2 linked regions of the Homo sapiens genome follow. The protein of the gene in region 2 purifies or fractionates together with the protein of the main gene of each other region. This does not show direct contact. Each region holds a gene or a part of one and is shown on either strand. Other genes may lie near its edges. The genes, in order: FDFT1 and STK32C.

Region 1 (16,498 bases), on a different chromosome or scaffold from region 2:
CGCTTGAACCTGGGAGGCAGAGGATGCAGTGAGCCGAGATCACGCCATTGCACTCCAGCCTGGGGGACAAGAGTGAATCTGTGTCTCACCAAAAAAAAAAAGAAAAAGAAAGATGCTTAACAAAGGTTACCATAAGCCACAAATTCATAACCACTTATCCTTCCAGTTTCAAGTAGAATATATTCATAACCTCAATAAAGTTCTCCCTGCTCCCAAACTGAGTTGATTCATTCCATGCGCACTGTCTCCCTCACCTCCATCGTATACGCACCTGCAGCTCCTTGCCTGCTTCTAGCATGGAGCCAGCGGGGATGTGCTGGTGAGTGACAAGGAATTGTGGGGCATGTCGACATCAGCTTAAGGCTTTGTTAGAAACACCTGCCTTGCAGTGTTTGTGACTGGGAAAGAGCTCAGTGTTTTAATACACCTCAGATCACCACATTGATCATAACTTTGTCACCTCAGTTCAATAGTTTCTCCTGGATTCTTGTCCAAGTGAGATGACAGGTGGACGTAACAATGCCTTTTCAGTCTTTACCTAGCCTCTCCAGAGAATCACTCCAGAATAGAAATTAGAGTATAGGTAGGCAGTCCAACCTCTGCATTTAAAAAAAAAAATTTTGAGATGGGAGTCTCTCTCTGTCACCCAGGCTGGAGTGCAGTGGCATGATCTTGGCTCACTGCAGCCTCCGCCTCCTGGGTTCAAGGGATTCTCCTGCCTCAGCCTCCCGAGTAGCTGGGATTACAGGCACCTGCCACCACACCTGGCCTAATGTTTATATTTTTAGTAGAGATAGAGTTTCACCATGTTGGCCAGGCTGGTCTGGAACTCCTGACTTCAAGTGATCCACCTGCCTTGGCCTCCCAAAGTGCTAGGATTATAGGCGTGAGCCACTGTGCCCGGCTGCCACTCTTTTTAAAGAAAGCAGTAATTTGCCCTCTTTTATTGTGCTTCAGCCATACTGAAGTGGTCCACAGACCAGGAGCACGGCCGTCACCTGAGAGCCTGTTAGAAATGCTCATCAGAGTGTCAGAGGGCCAGACCTCTGAACCAGCATTTGCATCTCCCAAGACCCCAGGTAGTTTCCCAGGTACATTCAAGCTCACAATACCTTTCCAGCTGCTCCCTGATTAGAAAACTGCATGAGAATTTAGGAATGCAACCTCTTGGGCACCCCATCAGACCTACTGTATCAGTCTCTGTTCCCAGCAATCAGGCAATTCTGATATAAAGTCTGAGAACCACAGCCTTAGAACTGTTTCCAAAACTGCCAAGAATAACCTAGAATGTTTGTTAACATGCCTGACTCGCCCTCTTCCTCCTATACACACCCGAGCCCCTGGGAAATGGCTCAGTAGATGGAAGAAGGGGCCCTCCCTGCACTTGCCCACAGGGATCCGGAAGTTCCCATATGCAGATATAAAGCTCTTGCTCCCAAGCATTCTAATTGTTTATGGTCCTAGATTCACATGGGTCAGAGGCTCCTCTGAGGAAAACAAAATATTGCACCATTAGGTCGGATCCAAATAGACTGTATGCCAGAGATGCTATAAAATTATATTAGAAGTGGGGAGTAGAGGGTAGTGTTGCCAGAGTTACCAAACAGAAATACAAGATGGCCAACTACTTCTGAATTTTCAGTTATGCAAGTTTGTTTGTTTTTTGAGACAGAGTCTCACTCTGTCGCCCAGGCTGGAGTGCAATGGCGTGATCTTGGCTCACCACAACCTCTGCCTCAACCTCTTGAGCTCAAGGGATCCTCCTGCCTCAGCCCCAACACCCTCCGAGTAGCTGAGACCACAGGTGTGAGCCGCCATGCCCAGCATCCCCTATTATATCTGGCAACCTTAGTAGAGAAGATACTTAGAAGGAAAACAAGCTTTCAAAGAGCTTCAGAATGGAATGAGAGCGGATACCTTTCTACAACTCAGTGAGTAGAAAAAAGCACATAGCTTTATAGATAGAAAAAATCTGAGATCACCCAAACCACACAGCTCAGGAAGTGGTCCCACAGGTAATGACCAAGTCAGGAAAGAAGATTTCCACAGGCCCCACTCAGACCAAATCTCTTTCCAGCAGGTTGTTCTGTCTTAACGTGAACTTTGGCAGAATTAAATCTTAGATTTCAACACACAGATTTTTAACAACCTACCCTGAAATCTCAAACCAAGTTTTGAGGCTTTAATTCCTTGGAAAATACTGTCGAGTCTAGCTCAGTGGTCCCCAAGCTTTTTGGCACCAGGGACCGGTTTCATAAAGACAATTTTCCCAAGGACAGAGGGAGGAAAATGGTTTTGGGATGAAACTGCCACCTCAGATCATCAGGGACTAGATTCTCACAAGGAGCATGCAACCCAGATCCCTCACACGCGCAATCGCACCTATGAGAATCTAACGCCGAGTGGAGCTCACGTGATAATGTTCACTCACCCGCCGCTCACCTCCTGCTGTGATGCCCGGTTCCTAACAGGCCACGTAACAGAAGGTTTAGTGCCGGTCCTAGGCCTGGGGGTCGGGGACCCCTGGTCTGGCTGTATTCCATGTGGCAAGTTATCTTGGCTGGTGACAAATGAGTCCAGGGCTAAGCCTCAAATGAACCAATTAACTGAAGTCTCCCTGGGCCCAAACTAATTTTGGTGTCAGTGGTCACAGCAAGAAAGTGTGCTTACAACAATGCAAATCCAACGCTGCAGCTCGAAACAACTCAAATTCAATGATTAAGCCACCATCCACGATGGGCTGCAGAAGAGTAGACTTTATGAGTACCTGTAGCATTAATGGCTTCTAGAAAGTACCGAATGCCCTAGTACACCAATTCTCAACTCGAGGGTCCACAGGCCTCCTTGCTGCACTGAGCACCTCAGTGAGAGCACATCACAAGCTCTGCTGCACTGGAGTAGAGAGGAAGGTGAAACCCCGAGCAGAAGTACTGTTCTGCCCCCAAGCCAATCACCTGAAGACAGCTTTTGCCTTTCTTAAGACCTGAATATATAAACTGATAACTTTAGAAAACAAAAACTGCTGGGGGAAATTTTTTTTTTTTTTTTTTTTTTTTTTTTTTTTTTTTTTTTACAATTTTTTCCTTTTTTTGAGATGGAGTCTCGCTCTGTTGCCCAGACTGGAGTGCAGTGGCGCGATCTGAGCTCACTGCAAGCTCCGCCTCCCGGGTTTAAGCCATTCTCCTGCCTCAGCCTCCCGAGTAGCTGGAACTACAGGCACCCGCCACCACGCCTGGCTAATTTTTTTTTTTTTTAGTAGAGACGGGGTTTCACCGTGTTAGCCAGGATGGTCTCGATCCCCTAATGTCGTGATCCGACCGCCTCAGCCTCCCAAAGTGCTGGGATTACAGGCATGAGCCACCACGCTGGGCCATCAACTCCATTCTTGAGCTCCATCTTTTCCACAGTCAGGCAGGCTTTCAAGCGAACTGTACTTGACAAATGCAGAGCAATTAAATTCTTTATTATAAAAATCTCAAAAATGTCCACCTTTACTGGAGACCAATCTTCTAAAAGGTCAAAAGCAATCCTGCTGTTTCTCTCTGAAAGCTAAACTCCTTTAAATGAGAATACGAGAATACCCAGAATTTTATTCCCAGCCTTTGTGTGGAAAAGGCAGTTTGCATTCTTAGGAAACATCTAACTGTTACCTAAACCATAAATATTTCTATCTACTCCATTCAACCCAATTAAAGAAAACAAAATGATGAGAAAAATAGGAGCCGAACAGAAAGAAAATTCACATCATTTTCTACTATTACGAACATTCAAATGGTGCTTCAAATTAAATACTTTTAATTATCATTCTAGCCAGGATCATACTAAGTAGGATCTCATGACAGTCACATATGCAGCGACTTCACCTAAACCGTGGCACTGAATGCTCTGCCATGAGCCACAAGCAGCACAGTGATCATCACCCACAAGGACAGGTTGCTGGGATGAGGCACCCTTTCCTTTCATGTTTAGGTTCTTCTCACCTGCATTTCACTTTCCTAAAGGTCCCAGCCACACAGCGTTCTTTTAGGGATTAAAGTAGTAGGAAAAAAATAAAGAGAACACAACATCCATCCTTAAAGAAAAAAAGTAAATCCACTTTATGGTGGACTTCAGCTATGGACAAATTTGGGATCAGTGTTCTCCAGTCTGAACATAGTCTTCTGTTACCTGGGAGAGAGTGGTCAGGTACTGCCAGCTCAGGGCAGCCAAAAGCATGACAAACGACAGGTAGATGGGGGAGTAGTGGCTTCGGGAAATCAGCTGACAGTTGGGAAGATTCTGCGTCCGGATGGTGGAGATGATCTGCCTTGTTTTGCTAGAAGATGGGTCTGAGTCGGGGATTCTATGATAAATCTGTTAAAGACACAGGAAAAAATGATAAGTGCTATGTGCTTTACATTTTCCATGGCTACTTACAACAACCCTCCACTGGCAGGTATTTTATACCCATTTTACCAATGAGGAAAGGGAGGCTCAGAGAACATGAACATAACTTACCCAAAGCCATCCCAATGATAAGGTGGGGATGTCAGCCCCAGCTCATCTCAAAGCCTGTCTTCCTGAGCAAACAGGAGGCACAGGTGTGCATACTGCACCCAGAGGCCCTCGAGAGCAGCGGCTGAGCCACAATGATCTTCACATCCCCAGCACCTCACAGTGCCAGGCCCAATAAACGTCACCATAGTTCACGTAGACAGGCACAGACTAACATGACGAAAGGGAAATGCTGGAAAGACTGGGCAAAAGCAGCTTAGAAACAAGATGGAACACGCAGTACAGACCACAGCTTGACAAAGGGGGACAGGAACAGAAGCAGGGAGCCGTATGAACCACCCTGGAGTCCTCCCTGTGCCTCCCTCCCCACTCCTCCACAAGCCTCCCAAGTATGTGCAGAATCCATCTCTTCCCCTACATCCCTAAAATTACTGCCTGAGATTAGGCCCTGAGTGCCTCTCAGATGAGCTATCTCAGTCTCCAACGTGAGTCTAAGCTTAAATTCCCAAATCTACCTGTCTGCTCTACACTGTCACCAAGGAGATCTCAAACCTCTGCTTGATGCCTCAGTGGCACCAGCCCTCTCACCTGGAGAAAAAAAGCCTGAGCTCTGTAATGTGTAGCGCAAGGCCACCCATGGTCCAGACCTACTGCACCTGTCTAGTGTCACCAGCCCTTGCCCACCTCCCTCTCTACAGTCTAGTAACAGTTGCCGGGCCAGGCACAGTGGCTCATGTTTGGAATCCCAGCACTTCAGGAGGCTGAGGCACGTAGACTGCTTAAGCTCAGGCGTTTAAGACCAGCCTGGACAACACAGTAAAACCCTGTTTCTACAAAATGTACAAAAATTAGCCGGGCATCGTGGCATGCACCTGTGGTCCCCCAGCTACTTGGGGACTGGGGTGGGAAGATCACTTGAGCCTGGGAGGTGGAGGTTGCAGTGATCCGAGATCATGCCACTGCACTCCAGCCTGGATGACAGAACAAGACCCTGTCTCAAAAAACAAACAAAAACAAAAGAACAACTGTCTACTGTTGTTTCGCCCATGCGATGCTGCTGCACACCTCTGTTCCAGTCTCATACCACTCCTTCTCTCTGGAATGCGCCTCCCACGTCCCTTCAACTGGCTCCTACCTAGGCCCCCAAGTCTCAACTTCAGGATTATGCCTTCTAGAAAACCTGTCTGCAGCTCCAGGTTCAGCCAGGAGCCACCCTATTGTACATACCTTTACCTTTCCACTTACGTGGAAATGGACCATCTGTAGTTTTCACCCTGACTACACCGCACCTACTTACTCACCTTTTTATCTCCAGCCTAGCCCTGTGCTGGCACACAGCAAGCGTGCATCCCTGGCTAATTTTTGCATTTTTAATAGAGACAAGGTTTTACCAGTGTTGGTCAGGCTGGTCTCAAACTCCAGACCTCAAGTGATCCACCCACCTCGGCCTCCCAAAGGGCTGGGATTACAGGCGTGAGCCACTCCACCCAGCCAAGACTTTTCAATACAAGCATCCATAAAGTAAAATATATAGTGATGAGATAATTCTATTAGAAGTCATCCTTCTGCCTGCCCATGTTGCTTTACTGCTTGTCTTAGCCTTCCTCCTAAAAGCAGAACCTGAGGCAAAAGCTTGCATGCAGCCATTTATTTGGAAACGAGTGGAGAAGTGAAACAGAAGGCAGGAAGGCCTATCAAGGATGTGTTGAGTTGGCTTGATCTTGAGGGACCTTCAAGGAGCCTTATGAAAGGTGGCCCTGAGGAGCAGAGAGGTGGCCCTCACCTCCTCTGGGTTGTGGGGACCCACGTGCCAGGCAGTTCCTGCAGCTCGTCAGAAGCCCAAGGGCAGGAAGCGAGAGGTCTCTGGAGCAGAAGGCAAGGTCCAGCCCTACTTGGAAACTGGTTGCTACAGCAGTGGCCGAAGGCCAAGATGAGTGGCAGTGACACACAGGGTCTCACACACTACTCTTGTAAATGACCTGAGTGCCCTGATGCCATCAAAAGCCATAAAATAGGCATTCACTACAATGACCCTGAGAATAGTTTCTCAGGTAAGTAATGGTTTTGGTATATTGTAGATTTTTTTTTTTTTTTAAGATGGTGTCTCGCTCTGTCACCCAGGCTAGAGTGCAGTGGTGCAATCTTGGCTCACTGCAGCCTCCACTTCCCAGGTTCATGCGATTCTCCTGCCTCAGCCTCCCAAGTAGGTGGGATTACAGGCACCTGCCACCATGCCCAACTAACTTTTGTATTTTTTTTTTTTTTTTTTTTTTTTAGTAGAGACAGGGTTTCATCACATAAGTCAGGCTGGTTTCGCACTCCTGACCTCAAGTGATCCGCCTGCCTCAGCCTCCCAAAGTGCTGAGATTAGAGGCATCAGCCACCATGCTCGGTGACATTTCACTTTTGAAAATTTAAGACTTACCTTCTCAGAGCAACTGTACAAGCAATGTACAAATAAAGGATGATAACATCAGCACCAAACTACACACTTATTCATTCCTGGGTTAATTCTGTGGCTCCTATGACTTTATTTCTTCATTTTACTTTCTCATCTACTTGTACTTTGTTAGCCTGTTGTACTTATAACCATAAGCCATCTTACATCCTTTTGGGAAAAAAGATTTACTTATTTGGAATCAATCGCTGGCACCCAAGTGAATATACACAACCAACAAAAACCCTTTTAGAGAACTCCAAGAGCACTTCAATATGCCCTTCCAGGAGATAAGTAAGGTGAATAAATTAAGAGAAATCTTGGTTGTGACAGTCCCCGGTAATACAATTAGTGGCAAAACTTTTGAGTCCTTTGATGATCATTTCTAACATATAAGCATGACAGCACAACTGGAAGAGCTGCAGTCACTGGTACTCAGACGTGGACTTACCTAAAACAGAGCCGGTAAGGCCAAAGGGACCTTCTAGATGCTTCGTTGCTAGACCAAACCCCACTCTCCATTTACCTGAAGGCACACAGTAGGTTTCTGCAAACTCAATTATTCAGGTCTTAAAAACCTACTAGCCTCAATCAAGGAGTTACATCTGCTTGTCAAGGACAGGTCATAGCCGACTTTTCATCTACATGCCCGGCATAAAGTTGAAGCCAAATACTTGAGGGGTTTGAGAAAGGGCCTTCACCCTGTTGCCCAGGCTGGAGTGCAGTGGTGCCATCTCAGCTCACTACAACCTCCACCTCCCGAGTTCAAGCGATGCTCATGTCTCAGGCTCCGGAATAGCTGGGATGACAAGTGTGCACCACCACACCTGGCTAAATGTTGTATTTTTAGTAGAGACAGGGTTTTGCCATATTGGCCAGGCTGGTCTCGAACTCCTTACCTCAAGTGATCTGCCTGCCTCAGCCTCCCAAAGTTTTGGGATTACAGGTGTGAGCCACAGTGCGAGGCTTGATGATTAAATGACACAGGCTCCTATAAATGTTTACTAGACTGAAATAAGCTCTTGTGCAATGCTGTGCTACATACAGCAGCTCCTCTGTGAGTCCATGTGGTACTTCCACGTCTCAGCAGTTCTACTTACAACTGCGAATATGGAATCAGCTTGATCATCATTTAAAACTCTTGTCTATGAACATCTAAACTTCCATTAAAGCAAAAACATCATTTGGGAAAAAAAGGCAGATTCTGATTCGATACGTTTGGGTGGGGGCTGGATGTCTTAATGGGCTCCCAGGTGATTCCTGGCAGCTGCTGGCTGGGGACCATCCTTGAGCAGCTAGGCACCTGGGGCTCAAAGAGCCGGATGATTCTCTGACTTAACCACAGGAGGGCACAGGAAGTGTGCAGAGACACGAACAAGATTCTCCCTGCCAAGGAATTCACTTTGGCAGAGAGGGGAATGGGGGTTTCTGGCCGTTTGGCTGAGCATTTATTTCTATCCCAAAATAGCAGGTTGATCTTCTCCCCAGCTGACAAGCATCCAGGCTGGTTTGAAGCAGAGGCTGCTCCAGAGTGGGGTGAGGGCCCTGCAGTGTGGCCAACTGCTCGTGAAGACCTGGGGCTGCACTCCAAGCCCCCACTAAGCACTGGAGAAGCATGAGGAGGTCCTCTGGCAAGTCCCTTCCAGGTGCATGCTCGCTACAACACTAAGTCCAGAGATCGGACAGAGTCAACGTTTCTTCCTTTCTTACTACAAAGGACAGACTTGGTCAGCAAGGAGAAATAGGATCAGTGTTAATATCTGGACACCAGCAAGAGGCCAGACGACTTGTGGCTTCATACAAAATGTTTTCATTTAAAACTTTACTTGTAAAATGTCCTTACTGCTGAAACTAAAACCATTAACAGGTTCTACTGCTTAAGACTTAGAAATCTTCAAAGATTTCCCTAAATCAAATCAACTTAAGTATTAATATTAACATTTCTCCCCTAATGCCTTGAGTTTTACTGGGATAACAGAACAACTGATACCCTAAGTCAGAAGTCAGCAAACCTCTTATTCAAGGGCCAAAAAATATTTTCAGCTTTACAAGTCATCGCCTGTTGCAGCTCCTCAACTCGGCCGTCACATTGCAAAAGCAGCCACAGAAGACAAAGAAGCAAATGGGTGTGGCTGTGTTCTGATAACATTTATTCACAAAAACAGGGCTCAGCCAACTGTAGACTGCCCACCCTCGCCCTCAAACTATGAATTACAACCAGGATTTAATCCCAATAGTTAAGGAAAAACCAAATAAATCTGAATTTTAATATAGTAATGGAATTGGCCACAAAGTGTTTAAAAACTGGTTTCTAAAACTAGTGATCAAACTGCAAAACCAAAACACTCTCAACTACTTACTACATAAAATGTTTCTAGTTTATATAAAATGAATAAATAGTGCTTAATATAGCAGGATTCCATTTAGAAAGGGTAGTTGAACCCCTTAGAATTGGGGTTAACATCATGGATTCTGATGTCAGACAGACCTGGGTTCAAATTATGACCCTAGCCATGAGGCTGGGGCCTCAAGTTTCCCTGAGATTACTCCTACCCACCTACTTGGTCACTACCCCAGGCACATAGATCAAAGTAAGTTCTGGCTACATGGCAAAATGGAGAGTCTCATTGGTAGCAATTTTTTGGGTCACTGGCTGAATATTTTCATCTAGTGACTACAAAATTTTAGGGTTTTTAAAAGCGATGTGGTCTTCCCTTAGACTTCCATAGGTGCCTCTGATAGAAGTTCTGGACATACAGCATTTCTGTGTCAGATAAAGGTAGGGAGGAAGTATAAGAAGAATGTGCAATATGCAAGAGAAATCAGAAATCGCTATTTTGTATAATTCTATTTAGATGAAAACACTGTTGCAAACCATATTCCTGTAAACGCGTAACAGGGGGACTAGACGGATGCACAAAACCATGAACAGAGGTAACCTCTGGGGAGGGAGCTCAGGCAAAGGAAAAATGATGAGGGTCTTGTATGTTTTCATAAAGTCTACAGTGTTTCATTCTCAACAGGATCACACCTGAGGATCACAGCATCATCCTGGGCCTCTACTCACCAGATGCCAGTAGCACCCGATTCCTGCCGGTTAGGACAATCAAAAATGTCTCCAGACATTGTCCAATGTCCTCTGGGGGGAGGGGAGCAAATCACCTCCATTTACAAACCACTGCTCTAGGGCCTAGAGATTATTAGAGATTACAAAGACTTCTGGTCTCTAAGACTTTTTTTTTTTTTTTTTTTTTTTTTGAGACAAAGTCTCACTCTATCACCCAGGCTAGAGTGCAATGATGAAATCACACAGCTTACTGTAGCCTCGACCTCTCAGGCTCATGTGATCCACCTGCCTCAGCCTCCTGAGTAGCTGGGACCACAGGCGTGCACCACCATGACAATTTTTAAATTTTTTGTAGAAATGGGGTCTTGCTATGTCGCCCGGGCTGGTCTTGAATTCCTGGCCTCAAGTGATCCTCCCACCTTGGTCTCCCAAAGTGCTGGGATTTCAGGAGTAAGCTACTGTGCCTGGCCAGAAATAAACTTTTTGAACCTAGTCAAATATTAGAGATTTGACCTAAGAAGGTAAGTTTTCTTTTTATAGGATGGTTTTGGTATTTGAAATGAAATTTTCCAAAGAAAATTTAGGAAATAATTGCAACTTGATGGCTTTCCTTGGCCTAAATTCCCTACTGTGATTTTTCAATTGAGGCCTGTGGCATAATGAAAGTACCAGACTGGGTGTCAGGACACATGGACGGGAGCCAGAGATCCACTCAATCACGCACTGCATCAGCACAGACAAGCTTCAACCTCACATTCCTCACCAGCAACAAGAAGCTTGGTTGGCCTCCTGCATCATCTTGCAGCTCAAAATCTATGATTCTACTGAGGGGCTCCAACCTACAGCCTTGCTCCATTTATCTCCTCTCACCAGGGTACTACACAGCAGTGAGCAATCTGCTCGGCTCCTGTGAATAGACTTTTTTCCTTATAAAGGATATCAATTCCTGTCTCTTTAGGCCACAGGATAGTGAATTGTTAGGATCATCTAATATCCAAACCTGGTTAAACAGTGACATTACTAAATCATAAAAGTAGCTACAAATTATCCAAGTAGTTAAATAAAAACCCACCTCTTCCATATACTGATATATGATGGCTTTGACAGCTGGCATATTGGTGGCATCCATCATCAGGGTCACTGCTTGCCCTTTCCGAATCTTCACTGCCCCTTTGAACACCTGCTGGTTATTATAACAGGCAGCCAAAGTGGCAATGGCCATCACCTAGAGACAACAAGAAGAGAGGGAAAAAAGAAGAAATGATGTCGTTAGCTATCATTATCACAAAAAGGTAAGAAAACCTTCTGTTGAATGGGCAATTGCTAACTGCTAATCAACTAAGATGGAATCGCTCAAGAAAAAATACCCACGAAGAAAGTATGTCAAGATTTTTACCTTCCCCACTCCTCCCTTTCTCAACAACACACAGAATTAAGCAGTCTAAAACAATTCTATAATGTAGCCACAAAAGTTCCATTTTATTTGGAAAAAGCAAACACAAGTAAATCCAACATTTTCCATGCTAGAGCAATGGATTATCGGATCGGAAATATGTATTTCAAAATAATATATGGGAAGAATTTTCTATTGTAGTTGTTTTTCTATTTTTCCTACAACAAACATAATCATTATATATTTAAAACCAATGCCAGGGGGAGAACAACCAGAAGGGGATTAATTTCCTGTGCTCAAAGGTAAAGTATTTCTAGGTAAATGGAAACATAAGACGGCGATACAGATTTTACTTTCAACCACCATTCGAAGTTGGTCATTAGAACAAGATCAAACCAAGTTCCCAAATCAGTTAAATGCTGTTACTTTCTTCACTTATTTGCAGTAGTATCTGCAATACTTGGTAAAGGCAACTAAAAAGTGTAAGTTCCTAGCATACTGAGAGGCTAGGTCTACCGGACCAGGTTCTTTTTATGCCGGGTCTAGGAAAAGGACAGCAGTAATTAGGTGCTTAATGAAGACTTTTTAATGATAACAGCTTCACCCAGGTTTTACCCAGCACTCCCCATAAATCTAAGCCAAAGACCTTGACTTAACTGTGAGGAAAAGAACCTAACTAGTTTAGGATAGCTGTAGAAAATAGTAAATCCAGAAAGAAGGTTCTGAAAAGGAGCAGGCTTAACCTCAAGGCTGAGCTGAGTTTGGTGGCTGGAAGCAAAGGCGGGTGCTATGAAACTCCCAGCGTAATAAACTGGAGTCATCGTCTTTTTAAGGAATCATATCCTTGAATATAGCACAGCAAAATCCACCCTTACTCCTACCCCACTCCCTTTAGCCCCGTATCCACCCAGAGGAGCCCCCTTCCCTACCTGTGGAATAGCACAGAAGTTAAACACACTCTGGTTTCTGAGTCTCGAAAGGTAGGTGATGACATCTGGGATGTGGTGCAGTGCATTGGTTATAAGTTCATTCAGGCACTGCACGGCCAAGTCAATATTCTCCGGCTTAGCAAAATCCCCTAACTTCTTAACATACCTGCTCCAAACCTAGACAGATAAGAAGATTAAGGAACAGGTCAGCGTGTGCATAGGGGAGAATTTACAAACAATATTAAAGGGTCTTTGTGCATAAGAACTATGATACAGGCTGGGCGCCGTGGCTCACGCCTGTAATCCCAGCACTTTGGGAGGCCGAGGAGGGTGGATCACGAGGTCAGGAGTTCAAGACCAGCCTGGCCAAGGTGGTGAAACCCTGTGTCTACTAAAAATACAAAAACTAGCCGGGTACGGTGGCAGGCGCCTGTAATCCCAGCTACTCAGGAGGGTGAGACAGAAGAATTGCTTGAACCTAGGGGGCGGAGGTTGCAGTGAGTCAAGATCTCGCCATTGCACTCCAGCCTGGGTGAAAGAGTGAGACTCCGTCACAAAAACAAAAACAAAACAAAACAAAAAAAAACACTATGATATACAGTAAAGTCTCTTAGCTGCAGACTCATCTTTCACGAAGATCAAGTTCATTTTAAGCTCCATGCAATAGCTATTTCTGACTACCAGTAAGTGTCCAGTTGCAACCTGGAAGTGAGTTACGTATTGGGGAGCATGTCCCGAGGGACAACTAGTGCAACACTGCACTACTTGGACGAATTCAGGCTAAAGAGGCTCCTGTTAGAGCTACTGGCCTACTTCTGAAAAAAATAACCCAATATACAAAAACAGTTATAATTGTACTGCAGACTAAACAGTAAACCTTCTCAAGATGGCCAGGCCTCTAAATAATGACTAACATTATATTCCTACTCTGGTAAGAAAGCTGCTGAAAGGCATAGCTGGGAAATGAGCTGAGTCTATCCTCTAAGTGTATTACACCTCCCTGGATCCTGATAACTTGAAAGTGAAATAAAACCTTTAATTCTAACAGTGGGATTCGGCTTGATGATTTTTAATGATATTATTTAGAGGATTCTCTGAAGCTAGCGAAAGTTCTGGAAACATAGTGTTGATGGTTATATAACATCATTAATGTACTTAATGCCACTGAATAATAGACTTAAAAATAGTTAAAATGGCAAATTCTCTATTATGTACATTTATTATAAATAAAATGTTAAGTATATATACATACAGTTAAAAAGAGATAACAACAAGTGCTGGTGAAACTGGGACTCTCACACTGCTGACGGGAATGTAAAATGGTGGAGCGACCTTGGAAAAGCGTCTGGCAGCTCCTCACAAGGTTCGAGCTGCTGTATGAACCAGCAATTCCACTTCTCAGCATAGACCCAAGAAAAAGGAAAACACACATCTACACAAAAACTTATATGCAAATGTACACAGTACTATTCACCATAGCCAAAAAAAATGGGAAGAACCCAAATATCCTTCAACTGATGAATGGATAAATGTGGTCTATCCACACAGTGGAATAATACTAGGCGATAAAAAGGAATAAAGCAGTGATGCAATGCCCCAGCATGGAGGAGCCCTGAAAACATGCTAGCAAAAGAAGCCAATCACCTAGGACCACATTTGGCATGATTCAACTACTACGAAATGTCCAGAACCTTTACTAAGCACTCTATGCTAGAAGTTCATCTCATTTTATTCACACCACCACCGTGTGGTAGAAATGATGCTATTTTACAGATAAAGTAAGTGAATGAGAAGAGCAGGGCTCTGCTCCTGTGTGTGCAAGATGGTGTGGCTCACGCTCATGCATCACATGCCCGTGGCTGATGTTCTGTCTGGGAGACAATGGAACAGTGGTCAGGGGCTGGCCTAGGAGCCGGGAGACTGAGACTCCACTTCCAAGGCAGCCACTGCCTCACTATACATCCCCAGACAATCCCCTTCCCTTCTCTGAGCCCTGTGTCTGCAAAAGAGGGGTAAGACAAGAGTGGTTTCTCAACCCTGGCTGCACACGAGTCACCTAGGAAACTTAAAAGGCCATGTCTGAGCTGAGGGAAGTGTTTTTTGTTTTTTTGTTGTTGTTTGTTTGTTTTGAGACAAGGGTTTTGCTCTGTCTCCCAGGCTGCTAGAATGCAGTGGTGCGATCATGGTTCACTGCAGCCTTGAACTCCTGGGCTCAGGCAATCCTCCTGCCTCAACCTCCCAAGGAGCGAGAACTATAGGGGTGTGCCACTATACCCAGCTAATTTTTGATTTTTTTTTTTTAAATGGAGTCTCACATCAGCCTCCCAAGTAGCTGGCCCTACCAGCGTATGCCACCACACTTGGCTAATTTTTGTAATTTTAGTAGAGACGGAGTTTTGCCATGTTGGCCAGGCTGTTCTCAAACACCTGACCTCAAGTGATCCACTCACCTGGGCTTCCCAAAGTGCTGGGATTATAGGCAGGAGTCACTGTGCCCGGCCAATTTTTACTGTTTTTTTTGTTTTGTTTTGTTTTGTTTTGTTTTAAGAGATAAGGTCTCACTACGTTGTCCAGGCTGGTCTCGATATCCTGGCTTCAGTGATCTTCCTACCTTGGTCTCCCAGTGTTGAGATTACAGGCGTGAGCCACCTTGCCCAGCCCCCAGAGTAGTTTAAATGTGAATTTTTCTTAGGAGTAAGACTCAGCATCTTTTCAGATTTTTAATAATCATCTGTGTGTCTCTTCCTGTGAACTATCTTGTTCTTATCTCCTTGCCCATTTTTCTGTGGGGCAGTTGGCCTTTTTCTTAACTTTTAGAAGTTTTTTTTAATATTAGGAATATGAACCCTGTATCTGCTCTATGAATTGCAAATATTGTTTCCCTCTGTCACTTTTTTTTTTTCTTGAGACAGTTTCATTCTGCCACCGAGGCTGGAGTGCAGTGGTGTGATTACAACTCAATCCAACCTTGAGCTCCTGCGCTCAAGGGATCCTTGTGCCTTAGCCTCCCGAATACCTAGGAATACAGGTGCATGCCAACATGCCCAGTTAATCTTTTAAATTTAGTTTTATTTTTTCTACTTTCTTTAATTTTTATTTTTGCTCTTTCAGCAGAATCATTTTCTAACAATTTTTTATAGAGATGGTATCTTGCTGTGTTGCTCAGGCTGGTCTTGAACTCCTGGCCTCAGCACTGGGATTATAAGTATGAGACACCACACTTAGCCTCACCCGTCTTTTTAAAACTTTAAAGTACTTGGCTGCAGGAAACACTTTTATGGAAAGCAAAAGGTAAATGCTGGAATAAATTCAGGGAACAGTCATAAAATTTTCTACTTTCCTTCTGAACAAAATCAGTATCAAAAGCTTTCTGTTCCCTGTCCATGTTTTAATTAAAGATCGACCCTGTCCCTTATTACAGACACCTGGAGTTTTTGTCTACCTGCCATCCCTTTCCCCTTCCTGCTGCAGAATTCTTTCTTTGGGGGAAATCCATTCTGTGTGTACTGTGTAGACGTAATCCAGGCGAGGCCAGAGAACTCAGCTGTGTAGCAACAGTAACTGATTCAGGGCTGAGCAGAAGAACCAAGCCCTTCCTCTTCTTTTGAGAGGGAGTCTCACTCTGTCGCCCAGGCTGGAGTGCAGTGGCACAATCTGAGCTCACCGCAATCTCTGCTTCCTGGGTTCAAGCGATTCTCCTGCCTCAGCCTCCCAGGTAGCTGGGATTACAAGCCCTTGCCACCACGCCCGGCTAATTTTTGTATTTTTTAGTAAACACGGGGTTTCACGATGTTGGCCAGGCTGGTCTCGAACTCCTGGCCTCAGGTGATCCGCCCACCTTGGCCTCTCAAACTGTTGGGATTACAGGCATGAGCCACTGCGCCAGGCCGAACAAAGCCATTCCTAAGAACTTTTTGTTAAGCTAGTGCACATGGGTTGTTACCATATCCACCACTTGGAGAAAGACCGTCTGAAAGAAATCAAGGACAGCAAGGCTTGAATATACTGATTACGTGGTGTGAATCCTGGGAGTCAGCCAGTCTACCTGAAGCAAACTCATGTCAAGCTATCCTATTTTCCACATCCCCTTATGCTGCCTGGGGGAGGCCTGACTTGTTTTTCTGTCACCCGCAACCACAAGAGTTAAAGGATTTTTCAGAGAATGTCTAAAGTTATTT
Region 2 (16,497 bases):
CTGCCCACGCCCAGGGCAGGCAGGAGACCTGTAAGGAAGCGCTCCAGGCACAGAGATACCACCCCGGGTGGCCACTCGCCCCCATTGACAGCCAGAGCCGAACAAGGCGGCATCCCACTCAGGAGGGTGGCTGAGAAGACCAAGGTCTCGCCACGTGCCCAAGTATTAGTCAGCAGCAGCAGGAGAAATGGTGGTTCACAGAGCTTTATTTTTATCTCCAGTTATACACAGACAGCAGAGAGGGAGGTTCAGAGAAACACACAGCTCAACGGAGCTTTTTAGGTGAGGAGGAAAATCTGGCTGGGAAGGGAAATGACACCAAGTAGAAGGCCTGGTCGTCCACTAACGTGAGCCCAGATTCAGCTCTGAGCTTCCCAACACCAAGTAGAAGGCCTGGTCGTCCACTAACACGAGGTCCGATTCAACTCCAAGCTTCCTAACGCCCAGTAGAAGGCCTGGTCCTCCATTAATATGAGCCCAGAATCAGCTCTGAGCTTCCCAACACCAAGTAGAAGGCCTGGTCCCCCACTAACGTGAACCCAGATTCAGCTCCGAGCTTCCCGACACCAAGTAGAAGGCCTGGTCCTCCACTAATGTGAACCCAGATGCAGCTCCGAGCTTCCCAACCAGGAAGAGACAGGGTCAGGGCCACAGGGCACAGGCCCTTACTTGATGTAAGAGCCGAGGGGCTCAAGAGGAAGTCTGGGAAGCTGCTCTGAGTGGTCCTGCAGGGCCTGGCCTGGAACCCGGGTTCCTCCCTAGGAGGGTCCTGCCTGACACAGCTGGGAGCGCCCGTTAGGTGTGGGGGTCCCCGGGGAAGACAAGGCCCCGCAGTGGGCTCGGGGACACAGGATGCTCCGCCCAAAAGCACGGGGCCACACTCCCCAGGAACCCGCCAGTGGACACACCAGACTACCCTGCCTCAGATCCGGGTCAGAAGACAGATGCCGCATCCCAGTGTAAAGGAAACAGTGCGGGCTACTGGGCCGGGTGAAAATGCAAGATGTGAACCAGGAGCTGCACGTCGGCCACGTGTGGAGAAGGCTGGGCCTTCAAGAGGACTGAGAGGAACAGAAGGAGGAAAAGCAAATTAAAAGTCCACACCGCGAGGCGCCCTCTGATGACTGGCAACCCCGTGGTACAGAGGGTTAGAGATCCCCCTCCAGGCCCATCGGGAGCCCGGGCCAAGGGACCAGCACCCCGTGGGTTTCCTGCCCTCACTCACCATGATGCACCGGCTATATACTCACTAAACTCTCACACTCAAAGTATGTCCGCGGGCCAGCAGCGCTGGCACCGCCTGGGGCCGGCTGGAAATGTGGGCTCCTGGCCCCACCCCAGGCCGGCTGGGTCAGCCGCATTTTCACAAGTCCTGGGTGACTGGGGGTCCGGGACAGGCAGGAAAGCTGCTCTGAGTGGTCCCGGCTCCGTGTGGAAGAAACACTTGTCTGTGACTTTGCCTCCCTCAGATCACCTTGGAGTGTCTCTGGGCTTCACCCGCAGAGAATCAATCCCTCAACAAAATCACCTCCAAGGCATCCTCGCATTACTTCTCCACTGGAAAGCTGGGTGGTTCAAGTTCTAAAAGAAAAGCCGGCTTATTTTTAGCCTTGTAAAATGCACAACCAGATGGATAGACACGCAGAGCTGACATTTGTTACATAAAAAGTATGACAGTAGGTCCCGAGTCCATTCTAGAGCAGCCTCACAGCTGGGAAGGAGAAGAGGCATCAAGCTGCACAGCTGCCCCAAGGGCCCCCAGGACACCCGGTGCTGGGCCCAGAACCGGGGAAGCCAGGAGCAAACATGTGACGGGGTGCCCGGCAGGAGGCCAGGACCATAGGCCTCCTCCCCAGTCCACACCCCAGACCAGGGGCCTCTGCAGCCACCAGGCTTCTGACCACCAAGCGCCTGCACTGTGGGGGATGGGTGTCTGGGCCACACAGAGAGCCCCCACCCCTTGCCTCACAGGGTCAGGAGGCAAGGAAAGAGCACCCTCCAAAATGCGAGTCCACACCTGACTGGAAAGTTTTCCCACACTAGGGCTAAGCTGACGCTCTGGAAGGACAACCCGTCCATACCAACCGTGCGGGAGGAGCTGTCCCCAGCCCTCGGCAGCCCCTGGGCTCAGGACCTTCTCTCTTCTCTGCTCCATGAGCTCCGGCAACACCATAAGGAAAGAACGAGGCAAAACCATCACGGGGCCACTAGAGTCACTCCAAGGCAACGTGACAGACCACCCAGAAAGCCAACAAAATGAACTTCAAAGCTATAGACTAACGAGAATTTAGCCAAGTGCAGTCATGTGCAAGAGGCAGCGAAGTCTCAGCCACACACAAGGTGAACCTTGTAAAAGTGGAGCGTTCCTTCACATCAGCAGCAGCCAGCGTGGAAACGGTCCCACTCCAGTCCCACAGGCCGGGAGCAGCAAGGGCGCAGCCTGCCTGGGGCTCTGCGGTGAGGGGCTGCGTGGGAGGCCTCAGATCCCTACAGGGGGAAACATCCTAACTGCACTCATCCTGGGAAAGAGGAGAACTAATGCGAGAAGGAGAGAGCTTTCTCACTCTCCGTCAAGCGATACTCCCTACGGGCTGCAATTTCCAACGCAAAAAGTGAAACCACAGAAGCGCTAGAAGAAAGTACAGATGCAGGTTTATGAATTAAATTATTATTAACTGTGCTGGGAAGGACTGCTGTCACATAAAGGCAAGGCCGGACGCAGCCACAAAGGCAGATGATGAATCTGACCACACACAAATTAAACACATCCATAGAGAAAAAAGCTAAGTAGCAACATTAAAAGATAAATGAGGAACGTGGGAGGGAAGCTGCTGAAGGCTCAGCCTGTGTACCAGGAAGGGCGAGAGGAACCTGCGGCTGCCATCCCACAGGACACATGCCGCTAACAAGCGCGGGCAGGCAATTCAAAAAGTGTGGAAACACGTGAAATGTGTTTAGAGCTGAATGCTCTAAACATTTAAGGTAAAAAGATGATGAACCTCATTGATAATCAAAGAAACTCAAAGCATGAGTGCCATCTTTTAATCTCTTAGACTGGCAAAGAATAGAAACATTGCTGATACCCAAAGCTGGAGAGGATTCAGGGGAAAAGGCGATCAAACCCTCCCGCTCCTGGAGCAAGTGAAAATGGGTTTTCCCTTCCCGCCAGCTCCGCTGGCAGCAGGTGGTCTGGTTCTCTCCCCTGCAGGTGCCTCCCGCCACCCACTGCACTCGCTCCTGCCTCCCTGTCTTGTCAGTCTCTCTGCTTCCCCTCTGCCCGGTTACCCCACGACAGCATGGCCCATAAACAATGCTCAGAGAGGGACCAATTGAGCGGCCACACGTGTTAAGGTATTTCACACGGACCCCTTTGCCTGAGCAATGTCGTTCCTAAAAATGTATCCTAGGGAAACAATGCCAAGTGCACAAAGATCTGCAACGATGTTCATCAATACGTCGTTTATGATATTTATAAAACAGAAACACCTCACAGTCCTGTGACAGGAAACTAAGTAAGCAGAGAAAGTCACAGCTGCTCAGGGGAGCACTGCAGAGTCGGGAATCTCAGCCTCGACTGCTGGTAAAACTCAAGAGGGGCTTAAAAAAAAAGCCTGAGCCCCTGAGCCCCACCCCCAACCCACCAAACCCCCCCAGTTCACCCACAGTTCACGGGTGTGGGGCTTGAGCATCTGCATTTTTTAAGAGTGCCCAGTGAATGACTCGGGTCCACAGCCTGGGGCTGAGAACTGTTGTAAATTCAGCCAACAAATGATGCCTCAGGTCTGGAAGAGGCTGGCAACATATCGCTGAATCAACAAGCACCTTACGGCAAATTGGCATGCAGAGCAGGATCCCACTTCTGCTAACAAAGAGAGAGTGTTTCTCCACGGCTGTACCTGGGACTGTATTTCCAGAAAAAGGCTGGGAGGTGACACCGTGATCCCAATGCTGAAGTTACAGATACCGTGGCATAAAGTATAGAATGTTTTTAAATGCATACATTTTAATGCTTTCATAATTAGGAAAAAACAAAGGTGTTTCTAATTTTAAGAGATGACTTGAGGAGTCTGGTGGCCCCTGGTCCTGCCTCACTGCCTGCCCGGCCCGGCGCCCAGGGCGGGCCGTCCACAGCCTGCAAGGGCCTGTCCACTCCAGCCTTCCCCAGATGAAGGCAAAGCCCCTCAGGGAGGAGCTACTTCCTGCTGGCGGGCTAATGCCACGTCAGGCTGGAGACTCAATGCTGTGACCCCGAGACGGGCGAGCGCCCCCCAGGTTGCAGAGCTGCTTAGCGGGAAGGTACCGGAGCCTCCTCTCAGGTTCACTTGGTATCACCAGGACACCAAGACAGAGAGGAATGAAGGGGCTCGCCCAACGCCATGCAGCTCTGGTGCAGAGCAGCAGCAGAAAGACCCCCTAACCAAGTTCAACCCCAAAAATGAATTTTTCACCGAAGTCAGAGAAGGGATAGAATGGGAGCATGTGAGGGGCTGAGGGGAAGGAAAACTGGAGACCCTCAGTTCTGGCATGACAAAGACGTGCAGAGAATTCTGTACATGCACCAAATATCTGCCAAATTAGGAAAATGGTTCTGGAGTCCACAAGGATTAAAAGGAACAGAGGACATTTAGTCTTATATGTCGCAACTATGCCTATCAGTTGAAATTTACCTGGCACTTTGTTAAACAGCACTCTTAATTTCTTTTTTCCTTTTCTCTGCATACTAAATTTGATATATTAATTAGGTGTTTTAATCTAAAAAATTCATCGGAAGGTCTAGCATTGCCATAGCAACCGTGCAGATTCAGTAAACTCGAGACACCAACACAGCACCAGGGCCTCCTTAAGCCAGTGCTGCCACGGGGCCACGAAAGTACCAGGCAAATGACTGCACCAACCTGAAAGGGGTGGGACTCAGGGGCAACAGTCCCTTCCTAAAAGACTCTCCTTTCTCCTTCCAAACTGAATCCCTTCCACCAACACGAGTCCCCGGCATCCACACTCAGAGGTGCAGAACATTCTTCTGCAAACCCTGTGCTATGACTCCCAAGTTGTCTGTGCCCTGCCAGTGACAGGAAGAAGCGGAGGGAAGCGGTCACCGCCCAGAGATGTCCTCTGCTATTCGGGCCAGGGCCTAGTCTTGCCCTCCTGATTTCACCACACAAAGCCCAGCTGAGTCCCGGCGGGTGCTCAGTTTGGGGATGTGGCTGCATACCAAGCCATACGGAGCCAGCAGCATCCGTGGGACACCGTCAGCCGAATCTCTGCCGTCCTACTACAGGCAAATACGGTGATGCTGGGGATGTGAAAGAATTCCCAAGTCAGACCGTGAGCCCCACAGACAGACTCTGTGCTTGCTCTTTTTGCCTTTCTAGTGATCCTTGAATTCTGTGACATAACACACTGTGAACACACAGGGAAGTCTACCCTACAAAGCTGAAGGCAGCCCAGTGCCACACCACTGTCTCCACTCCCACCCCCGGAGAGCACGGTGCCGAGACCCAGAAGAGCAGCCAGCTCTTGGCTGACACCAGCAAGTGCTAAACCAGATGCGTTTCTCAGACGTTCTCTCAACCCGCAGCCAGAAACGAGAGGCAAATCTGCCTCCTGATCAGCTCCTAGTTCACTCTGGGCTTTCTTTACTTTGAATATTTATGTTAAAAACAAAAACATTTCTCAAACATTCACCATCGTGAGTTCTGCTGTCCCGAAGTTCAGGACACAGTGACGGGCCACCCTGGAGCGTGTGGGGCCTGGTGTGGCTGGGCCTTCAGCCCTCCTTCTAGGCAGCACACCATGAATCCCCGGTGCCGTCTCCCGGAGGAACGGCGGTGCACGGCCCCACACTCACCAACGCCGGCCTGAGGTCGTATTACTGTAATTTCCCATAATGCTTAAATTATTTATCGCAAGTAAATAGCCTGGCTCCTGAGCGCTGGGCTCTAAAATTTTGAAGGATCCATCATACCTCTGCACGCTATCTATAAATGAAAAATGCACATTTCAAGTATTTTAAGAAAATGTCAAAAAACATGAAATGTGTCATCAATGTACGATTTTAAATGATTTGCATGTTACCTGTAGAAAAGAGCTGTATGTCTGCATGTGACTGTATTACAGTGCCCACAGGCAGACGCGGCACCACATCTCCCTGCAGGTGATAATTCGGGGGTCCCCGGGGCCCCCTGGCACCCCGGGAGGTGTCCCTGCAGGCCTGTCCCATGTCACCTCACCTGCCTTCTCTGCTTTCTATGGCGCCCACGGCTGCACGGTCACTCAGGAGACACCAGTCCCCGGGGTTGGCGGCTTTATCTACAGGACTCAGCAGCGCACTCGTTCCTGGCAGGGCAGGTCTTTGCACAACGGCCTGGCCCTGCCTCCAGCGCACATGGGTGAGCAGAGGATGGACACCGCGCGGTCACCAAGGAGACTGAGCCTCTGAGCGGCCGGGCCCCGCCACCTGTGGGGCAGGAGCCTCACTCGCACTCGGGCGGCACAGGTGAGCGCCTCTCTAACTGCAAAGTACAAACGAGCCCGCACGTGGGCCCGAGCGGATCACGGAAAGCGGAAAGCAGGGCTGCCACGGGCGGTGGGCGGAGGCGCGCGCAAGCCCGGAGACGCCACAGCCGCGGGGGACCCTCGCCCCGAGGGCCCGGGCCCAGCCTGCTCCTCCTGCGGCGCCGCCACTAGAAACGGAGGACGCGGGCGGGCGCCCAGAACTCGCGTGGGGCCGCAGCCACCCGGCGCGAGCTTCTCCGGAAGCCGGGGCGCCCCGGGAAGCCGTCCCGGACACCGGGGGAACCCCTGCGGGAAAAAGCCGCCCAGCCGCGCCCGCCCCTGCAATAGCGCGCGGCCCCCACGTCGTCCCCGTGCCCGCACTCACCGTCCTCCTTGTCGTCAAACACCGGCCTCCGCGCGGTGGCCGCCGACATGGACGAGCCCATCCTCTTCTTCCACTTGCTCCACTGAAACAGGGGGCGCGGCTGCGAGCGGACATCGCCCGAGTCCCGGGCCCGGGGCTGGCCAGCAGCGGGCGGCGGCAGGGCCGAGGGCGCGTCGGAGCCGGCGGGGCGCGCGCGGCCGGGGGGCGGCGAGCCCGGGGACGCCGCGGCGCTGCTGCCCCTGCGCTCGGCGCCACTCCTCATCGCCGGGTCTGGGTGCGCGCGGCAGCCGGAACTCGGGGCATGGCCGGCCGGCAGGGCCGGGAGCGGCAGTGGTAGCGGGAGCGCTCGGGGCCGGCAGCGCCCGCCGTGCGCTCTTCTGGGCGGTGGAACCCGCCCCGTAGATTGCGAGCGCTGGGGGCGGGGCAGGGGCGGGGCTTCTGGAAGGGGCGGGGGCGGGGCGGAGCTCCTGGAAGGGGTCGAGGCGGAGCTGAGCGCCGGGGCGTGGCAGGTGCGGAGCTTCGGGAAGGGTAGGGGCGGGGCCGAGCCGGGGGCGGGGCAGGGGCGGGGCTAGTGCCTGGAGTGTCGCTAGGGAGTGGGTGGCCGCCACCAGTCTAGGGATGGGGGCTGTGGTTCGCCGGGACACGGGGACCACGGCTCAGACTAGACGGCGGGTACGAGAGCGAGGGAGGCAGGGAGCGTCCCCACGGGTATCCTGGGGCCCCGGAGGTCGGCGTCCCTGGCACGGGGACTGCTGTGCCCGGCACGGCGGCGGGACCTTCTCGCGGTCTCCGGGGGCCTCCCTCCCCTGCCTTCTTCGTGAAAACAGCCGGCGCGCGGGCTTCCGCCGCCCAGTGCGGGGAGCCCTAAACTCCAGCCTTCTGCTTTGCGCAGGGTGAGGCCGGGCTGCAGGCCCGGGATGCGGGCGGCGGGAATCTGCCGGGCAGAGCCCGGCTCACGGTCAGGAGGCGGCAGGCTGAGTCCAAGCGCTGCGCCAGAGGGTGGGGTGGGGCAGGGCGGGCCTGGCTGCGCGCGCGCACACGCGGGCGCCTGGGGTGGGCGCTAAGCCCTGAGCACGTGCGCCCGCGCTCTCGGGCACCCCCGTGCCATCCTCGCGACCCCCGTCCGGCCTGAGACCGCGTGCCCGAGTCGCCCAGGGTCCCCTTGTCCAGATGCGACAGGGGCCTCGGCACTCGGCGTATTTCGGAGGCCTGGGGCGCGGCTTGACCTCCGGGCACCTCTGCCCCTGCGCAGGGCCAGGCGCGACCTTGCGCGGAAAGTGCTGGGCGCCTTGGAGTGCCCTGGAGAAGGCGCGGCTCTGCATGGAGCCTCGCCGCCTGCCCCTGGCGCTTGTCACTGAAGAATCAGTTTTTGCTACCGGGCTGTTTGACTTTAGGAAGCCTTTACCTCCTTAAGTTCTGCCCTGTAACCAGGACACAAAGACGGGGTCTCTTCCTCCTCGGTGAAATCCTAGATGGGATTTCCTGCTGCCCGCCCGGACGATGAGCGGATCCCCAACATGGCTCCAAGGCCAGTGTCTCCCGCTCCCGTCCCTCCCACCGCACACAACTGTCTACCCTGTCATTCAGCCACTGTGAGCCCTGCCTCCCCACGGCCTTTGACATTCAGTGTGGCCGCCCGCCCTAACCGCCTGATGCATGAAATGTGAGCACGGGAAGTCTGTGTGGCTTCTGGGCCAACAGGAGCCCCCATCCCTTGGGGACTATAAGGAATGGAACCATGCCCATCTACCTAGGACATGCACCCGCCTGGACATGCACCCGCCTGGACATGCACCCGCCTAGGACATGCACCCACCTGGACATGCACCCGCTTAGGACACATGGCATGCATTTCACTACTGAGATTTAGAGGGTATTTTTATGGCAGCATAACCTAGGTTACCTGACCAACCAGCCACCGCAGCTCTCCCTGCCTGGCTAGCACAAACGCATCGGTCTCTAACTTCCAGTGCACAGAGCCGAGTTTTCAGCCCTTGCAGCTGCGAAGCTCTGTTCCCTGCTCTCCCTCAAAGTTGCCATTCTCCAGCAGGCACGCAGAAGGCAGTGGGTTCAGCACCTGCCTCAGAGGAAGCCCTCGGTGCCCATCCCAGCAGGAGTGGTGAAGGAGCGTTTGGAAGGGGAGGTACCAAGGCAGGGCAGTGCCTGGAACCCTGCGTACCCGGTGCACACATCAGACTCCCCAGGGCTCCTCCCAAAACACGCAGCCTCTGAACTTACATCATCGCCTCTCCTCCTCTCCCTCTGACCCCTAAAAGTGGCAGAAAAGGAATAAAAGATATAACGTCCCCACCACCACCTAAGAGGGAACAGGAGAAGGGAAGACATGTTAATAGACTTCAGACAGCAGGTAGAAAGCTGACTCTGAAGATTGGAGAGGCTGAGGACCTGCAGGTAACCAGGACCCCAAAAGGCGGGAGAATGTGAATACAGCCAGAGCCCAGGACGCCTCCCCGGCCCGGGCAGTTGGGGATGGACAGTCCTCTGGTCTGAGGGTCCAAAGGGGCTCTTGACCTAGGGATACCAAGTCCTGCAGAAGACAAGAGTGCAGGGGGGCAGAGGGGTTCATGGGGACATCTGCACACTTAACTAGGAGACCCTCCAACCTCACCCTTGCTGTGAGCCTCAAACACCAAGCCAGGCACCTGCCTCTCAGTCAGGAAACAGGAAGGATCTGTAGGGAAACAGCAGCTCCCAAAAGAATGCCGGGTCCTAAGATTTGGCCAGTGCAGATCAGCCCTGGAGGGGCCTGTGGGCTCAGGGCACAACTCTTGTACTGTCCAGGTGCAACTCTTGTACTGTCCAGCCACGGCTCAGGGTCCAGGCAAACACAAGACTGAGCGTTAAGAGGTGCACAGTGTAGGCATGAGACAGGAGGGGTCAGGAACTGCTGTCCCCAAGAGGATGCCAACCCCTGGTGCCTCATGGGAGGTAGCTCTGAAGTTCTAGGGGGATGCTGGGAGGGACTGAGGCTGGGACAGAGTCAGCTGTGGATGGGAAGGGGCAGTGAGGCCAGTAGAGAATTCCTGAGTTCCCCTGTGTGCCCATGCTGCCCGGGAACGTCAACTTCATTAGGGCAGCGATGGTGTCTGCCCCTTCCAATGACAGGAGACCAAGTGACAATGTGACAGATAAATGCATTCAGTGCACTGACGTCTAGCACGCAGGAGCACACAGGAAGGCACATGGCTGGGCAGCACGTGCATGATCGTGGGACCACTTTAGCTTGGGTAGTCCAGCATGAGTCTCTGAGCAGGTGACCTTGATGCTGAGGCCGGAGCATGAACGAGTAGCCCAAGGGAGGCCAGGTGTCCGGGTTCCAACAGCAGGAGCTGGCCCTAAGGTAGAAACCGGCTTGTGCGGGAGGACAGGAGGGTCCATGCTGCAGGACAGCAAGTGAGTGGCCGTGGCATGTGCTGAAGGGCTGGGGGTGGTTTGGGGGACAAGGTGCAGTCCCTGACACCAGGCTTCATGTGCATTTGTTCATAATTCGTCCATAAAGCCACGCCTCCTGAGGGACATGCCTTGGACATGGGTCCTCCGTTGCCACATAATTGGCACACAGCTCAGTCACACCGAGATGTGTGCTTCATCTTCTGTCATCATTATGAAATTAACACATGCTCTGCCCACGCCTTTGTTAAGAGTCCTTTTATTAAATCTCCTCAGATCACACGATTCGTGTGTGCTGTTTCCTGCTGGAAAACACATCTCAGAACTGACCCCCAAAACAGGAAATGGGCTCCCATGGGACTCCGATGCTGGTGTCCACCTATGTGGAGAATCCACGGACAGCCTCCCTCCTGGGAAATGGAAGACAGATGGCCGTGGCGCCCTCAGATTCAGCCCTGGCGGGGCCTGGGACTGAGGATTCTTGGAAGGCCAGGGCCTTGGAGCCCACGTGTGGGGACACTTGGTTGCTATGGTGACAGTATTGATTTTAAAGGTCATGTGGCCACCTGGTGACTCAGGAAGGAGCACAGCGACGGAGAACATGCAGGACGGGCTGCAGCCACTAGGAAGGAGCCCTCGCCCCCACTGCAGTGCGCCGGGGCCGAGCATGAGTTCACCGCTCAGCTCTGCTTAAGGACCCACAACCCCAGCCCCTGCTGCCACCATCATCACGTTGCCTTTTCATCTGTCTACTCCGCCCTTTTCTTCCTCTATAAGGACACTTGTCATTGGACTTAGGGCCCACCCTACTCCAGGATGATATCATCTTGAGATCCTTAACTTAGTTACATCTGCAAAGATCCTCTTTCCAGATAAGGTCACATTCACAGGGCCGGCACGGACATGTCCTTTGGTGGCAAAAGGCCACCATTTAACCCACCACATCCATGGGCAGCATGGATTCACCACACCCTACAGCCCCAAAGTCCCAACCATTACAGCAGCAACTCTAAGTCCAAAATCCCAGCTCAAGATTTTTTTTGAGACAGAGTCTCACTGTGTTGCCCAGACTGGAGTGCAGTGGTGCTATCATGGCTCACTGCAGCCTCGACCTCCCAGGCTCAAGCGATCCTCCCATCTCAGGCTCCTGAGTAGCTCGGACCATAGATCCATGACCCCACCCCTGGCTGATTTTTTGTGCTTTTGGTAGAGACAAGGATTTCACACTGTGGCCTAGGCTGATCTCAAACTTTGGGGCTCAAGAAATCCACCCCACTCAGCCTCCTAAAGTGCTGGGATTACAGGTATGAGCCACTGCACCCAGCCTCTCGTCTAAATATTTTCAGCTCGAAAGTCTCCAAGACTCATTGTCTAAATCATGCCTGATTTAGACAATCAGAAATGATGTCCAAGACTCATTATCTAAATCAGGCATGGGTGAGACCTCAGTTCAATCCATTCTGGGCAAAATTCCCCTTTATCTGTGTAACTGTGAAACTGGAAAATATGCTTCCAAGGTACAGTGATGAGATAGGCATAAGATATACATTCCCATTTCAAAAGGGAGAAATAAGAAGGAATAAAAAGAGTCATCGGTCCCAAGTAAGTTCAAATCCAGCAGGGCAAGTTCCATGAGGTTTCAAGGCCTGGCAAGAATTCTTGGTGGCTCAATGCTGCACTACGTAAACTAAAATTAAAACCATAAGCCCCCAACCGATGGGACAGACCCGCTCTTGGCCAAGGAAACTCCAGAAAAACCTTAAAACTGAGTTCCAGGCCAGATGCAGTGGCTCATGCCTGTAGTCCCAACACTTTGGGAGGCCGAGGTGGGCGGCTCACTTGAGGTCAGGAGTTCGAGACCAGCCTGGCCAACATGGCAAAACTCTACCTCTACTAAAAATACAAAACTTAGCCAGGCGTGGTGGCACACGCCTGTAATACCAGCTACTCAGGAAGCTGAGGCATGAGAATCACCCGAACCTGTGAGGTGGAGATTGCTGTGAGCCGAGATCACGCCACTGCACTCCAGCCTGGGCGACAGAGCGAGACTCTGTCTCAAAAAATAAAATAAAATTAAATTAAAAACCTGAGTTCCTGGCTATGATGGTGGGATGGGAGGTCAGACGGGTCTCCTGATACCCCCTCCCTTTTACGGTTTAGACACAACAACCAACCAGCTTTAATGTTAAGCTGGAGACCATAAGACAAACGGAATGGCTCTTTGTGGCAATAAGATACCAAATTATAAACAGGACCTAAGGCCATGCCGAGTGACGGTTAAGTCACACACTCTACCCTTACAGCAGCTAACAAGCACTGGCCTTGAGATGAGCAACATTAAACGCCGTGGCTGTTTACCATCCACACAGAGGCAGCCTCTAAGGCTAAAAAGGACCCTTCCACACGGGCCACACGACAGACATTTGCCAAGCACCTGCTCCATGCTAGGCACTGCAGCAGACACTGCTGACATAGTGAATGGTCAGATGGAGCGTGCACCCCTCTCAGCGAGGGAGACGGGAACCCAGTGGATAGCAGGCAAAGAGGGGATGCACAGAGGGCTGCGAGAGCAGGAGTGGATGCCAGTCCTGACAGAGCATGAGGGACACCCCCTCGAGGCAGCCCACAGCAGAGCTGACACCTGACAGATGGGCAGACGTCAGCCAAAGGGGAGCAGGAGAGCAGCCCTCCGGGCAGAACATGGGTAGCGTCCAAGAGGTGAGCAAGAATGTGATGCTTTAGAAGAAAGGAATGAATGAAAGGCCAGGCTGGTTAAGCTGGAGAGATTGAGGCAGGGAGTGGCAAGAGACGAAGGCTAAGGAGATGACAAGGACCAGGTCAAGAGGCCTCATGAGCTCCGTGGAAGGTGCTAGCTCTGGCTTCCTGAAAGGCTGCTGAAATGGGGGTTGTTTAAGACCCATGCAGTGAACTTTGGCCAATGGAAAACCACTGCTGGGAGGATAAGCCACCTCTCCTTCCTCTTTCCCACAAGAGTTCGCAGGCAGAGTCTCTCTCCTGCCCATGTGAAGGCATCCTACCTGGCCAAGCAGGGCATCCATGGAGCAGCAGCCTCTGTCAGAACTCAGCCAGCCATAAGCCCTCGGCCAGCACCGCGATGCACCACCTTACCTGGGCCCCGCCCTTCTCTGCCCCTCTGCCCTTCTGCATCTATATAAAGGAGGGGCAAATCAATTTCATGTTGAAAGACAATTCATCGCTCATAGCAGAACTAATAACACTCTGCCTGATAGCATGTGCAGATGTAAAACTGCACAACTTACAAAGGGCAAAGAGATGATGACACTGCTGAGCTTTTCTGACATTCCCTGGAAGTGGTGTTTTACAGCTCAGGTTTGACTGTGACAGACTGAGGGTGGCTATCGTGATCCACAGCAATGCCTTTAAAAAGTGGCCCAGCTAACGAGCCAACAGAGGAGATACAATGTAACTAAAATCACCAGGAGAAGATGAAAACAACCCATGGGACACAAGGAAAATAAAGAGCAGAGTGGTAGAGTTCATCATTACAGTAAACGTAAATGGACTACGCACTTCAATTAGAAGATAGAGACCATCAGACTGGATACAAATGCAAGACCCTAATATGTATATGCTGATTCTAAAAGCTGCATCTTAAATATAAAGATGAATTATAACCTAAACACTAAAAAAGAATTTAAAAGTAAAAAGATGGAAAAAAGATATACCATGCAAATAATAATCATAAGAAAGGTGATGTAGCTATATTTATATCAGATAACGTAGACTTCAAGACAAAGAATATTATTAGAGATAAAAAGGAACATTTCAAATGATAAAAGGATCAATTATTTAAGAATACCTAACATGCAGCCATAAAAAAGATTGAGTTTGGCCAGGCGCAGTGGCTCATGCCTGTAATCCCAGCACTTTGGGAGGCCGAGGCAGGCAGATCCTGAGTTCAGGAGTTCAAGACCAGCCTGACCAACACGGAGAAACCCCATCTCTACTAAAAATCCAAAATTAGCCAGGCGTGGTGGCGCATGTCTGTAATCCCAGCTACTTGGGAGGCTGAGACAGGAGAATCATTCGAACCTAAGAGGCGGAAGTTGCGGTGAGCAGAGATTGCACCATTGCATTCCAGCCTGGGCAACAAGAGCGAAATTCCATCTCAAAAAAAAAAGAATAAGTTCATGTCCTTTGCAGGGACATGGATGAAGCTGGAATCCATCATTCTCAGCAAACTAACACAGGAACAGAAAACCAAACACCACATGTTCTCATTCATAAGTGGAAGCTGAACAATGAGAACACATGGACACAGGGAGGGGAACATCACACACTAAGGCCTGCTGGGGGTTTGGGGGCAAGGGGAGGGACAGCATTAGGACAAATACCTAATGCATGTGGGGCTTAAAACCTAGATGATGGGTTGATAGGTGCAGCAAACCAGCATGGCACATGTATAGCTATGTAACAAACCTGCACATTCTACACATGTATCCCAGAACTTAAAAGTAAAATAAATAAATAGATAGCACAAAAAAAGAATACCTAACAATCCCAAATATGTATGCGCCTAATAAGAAGACTTCAAACTATATAAAGCAAAACTTGACAACCGGAGAGAAAAATAGACAAACGCACAGTCATAGTAGTAGAGCTTAACACTTCCATCTCAGGAATTGCTAGAACAGGTACACACATACGCAATTACTAAGGATATAGAAGTTTGGGCAACACTCTTAAGCAAGTTGACCTGATCGACATCTATAGAACACAATAACCAATAACTGCATATTACACATTATTTTCAAGTGTGCAAGAAATATTAAATAGGATGTCATATCCTGAAACAAAATGAAAATTTTCAATAAATCTCAAAGGATTGAAATAATATATAATGTGTTATCTGAACACAATGAAATTAAGCATCAATTATAAAAGAGAGTCCAACATTTGGAAATTAAACAATAATCCATTATCAAATAATGAATCACAAGGAAATTTAAAAATATTCAAATGGAATGATTATAAAACCCAAACTAATAAAATGTATGAGATGCAGCTAGTTTTAAATGCCTGTATGAGAAAAATAAGAGATGTTAAAAATCAGTTTTCTAAGTTCTGTCTTAAGAAGCTAAAAAAACCATTCCACAATGTATACATATTCTGAAACATCTTGTTGCATGCCATAAGTATATATCATTTTTATTTGCCAATTAAAAAGAAAATAAATTGTAAAAAAAAATTTAAAAAATAAATTACATACCTTAAAAATCACTACTATAAGCCAATGTAGCAAAGATGGGAAGTTTTGTTCATGGGAGAAGAGAGTAAAGATGAGCTATAAAAAGTTAAAAAAATAAGGCCAGGCACGGTGACTCATACTTGTCACCCGAGCACTTTAGGAGGCTGAGGTGGGAGGATTGCTTGAGCCCAGAAGTCTACGACCAGCCTAGGCAACATAGTGAGACCCAGTCTCTACAAAAAATAAGGATAAAAAAATTAGCCAGGCATGGTGGCATGCACCTGTAGTCCCTGCTACTCGGGAGGCTAAGGCGGGAGGATCCCTTGAGACTGGGAGGTTGAGGCTACAGTGAACCATGGTCGTACCACTGCACTCCAGCTTGGGCAACAGAGTGAGATCCTGTCTAAAAGATCAGGAAAATCAGCAAAGCAAATCAGTGATCCTTTAAAAAGTCATTAAAATGTATAAAGCCCCAGGATTACAGAATAAGGAGAAAGAGGAATTAGAATATTAGAAATGAAGAAAAGGCTATCATTCTAGAATCTAAAGATACTTAAAAGAGTCCAGGCGCGGTGGCTTATGCCTGTAATCCCAGCAATTTGGGAGGCAAAGGCTGGTGGATCACAAGGTCAAGAGATTGAGACCATCTTGGCCAACATGATGAAACCCCGACTCTAAAACTACAAAAATTAGGAGAATCACTTGAACCTGGGCTGGGAGGCAGAGGTTGCAGTGAGTCAAGATCATGCCACTGCACTCCAGCCTGGGACAGAGTGAGACTCCATCTCAAAAAAAAAAAAAAAAAAGATACTTAAAAGATGAAGAAAGGCATGTTGTGAAAATGTAGTACCAGTACATTATATTTGTAACTCAGATAAAATGGAGAAACTATTTGAAAAATATAATTTATCTACAAGAGAAACTGAATTTGTAAGTTAAAACTCCTTCCCAAAGAAAACTGAAAGTACTGAGACAA

Evidence for each region.
Region 1: the proteins of STK32C (region 2) and FDFT1 purify together in Homo sapiens (affinity purification with mass spectrometry; 3 studies listed by BioGRID and IntAct, with this or other methods). This does not show direct contact.

The regions. Positions count from the first base shown.
Region 1 is NC_000008.11:11,826,243-11,842,740, reverse strand, and holds the end of FDFT1 (squalene synthase), read right to left. Parts: intron 12,498-16,498; coding exon 12,321-12,497; intron 11,224-12,320; coding exon 11,071-11,223; intron 4,354-11,070; coding exon 4,132-4,353; 3' UTR 3,443-4,131; downstream 1-3,442. UniProt on the Homo sapiens protein: Catalyzes the condensation of 2 farnesyl pyrophosphate (FPP) moieties to form squalene. Proceeds in two distinct steps.
Region 2 is NC_000010.11:132,300,692-132,317,188, forward strand, and holds the start of STK32C (serine/threonine-protein kinase 32C), read right to left. Parts: upstream 7,260-16,497; 5' UTR 7,143-7,259; coding exon 6,881-7,142; intron 6,532-6,880; exon of another isoform or gene 6,231-6,531; intron 1-6,230.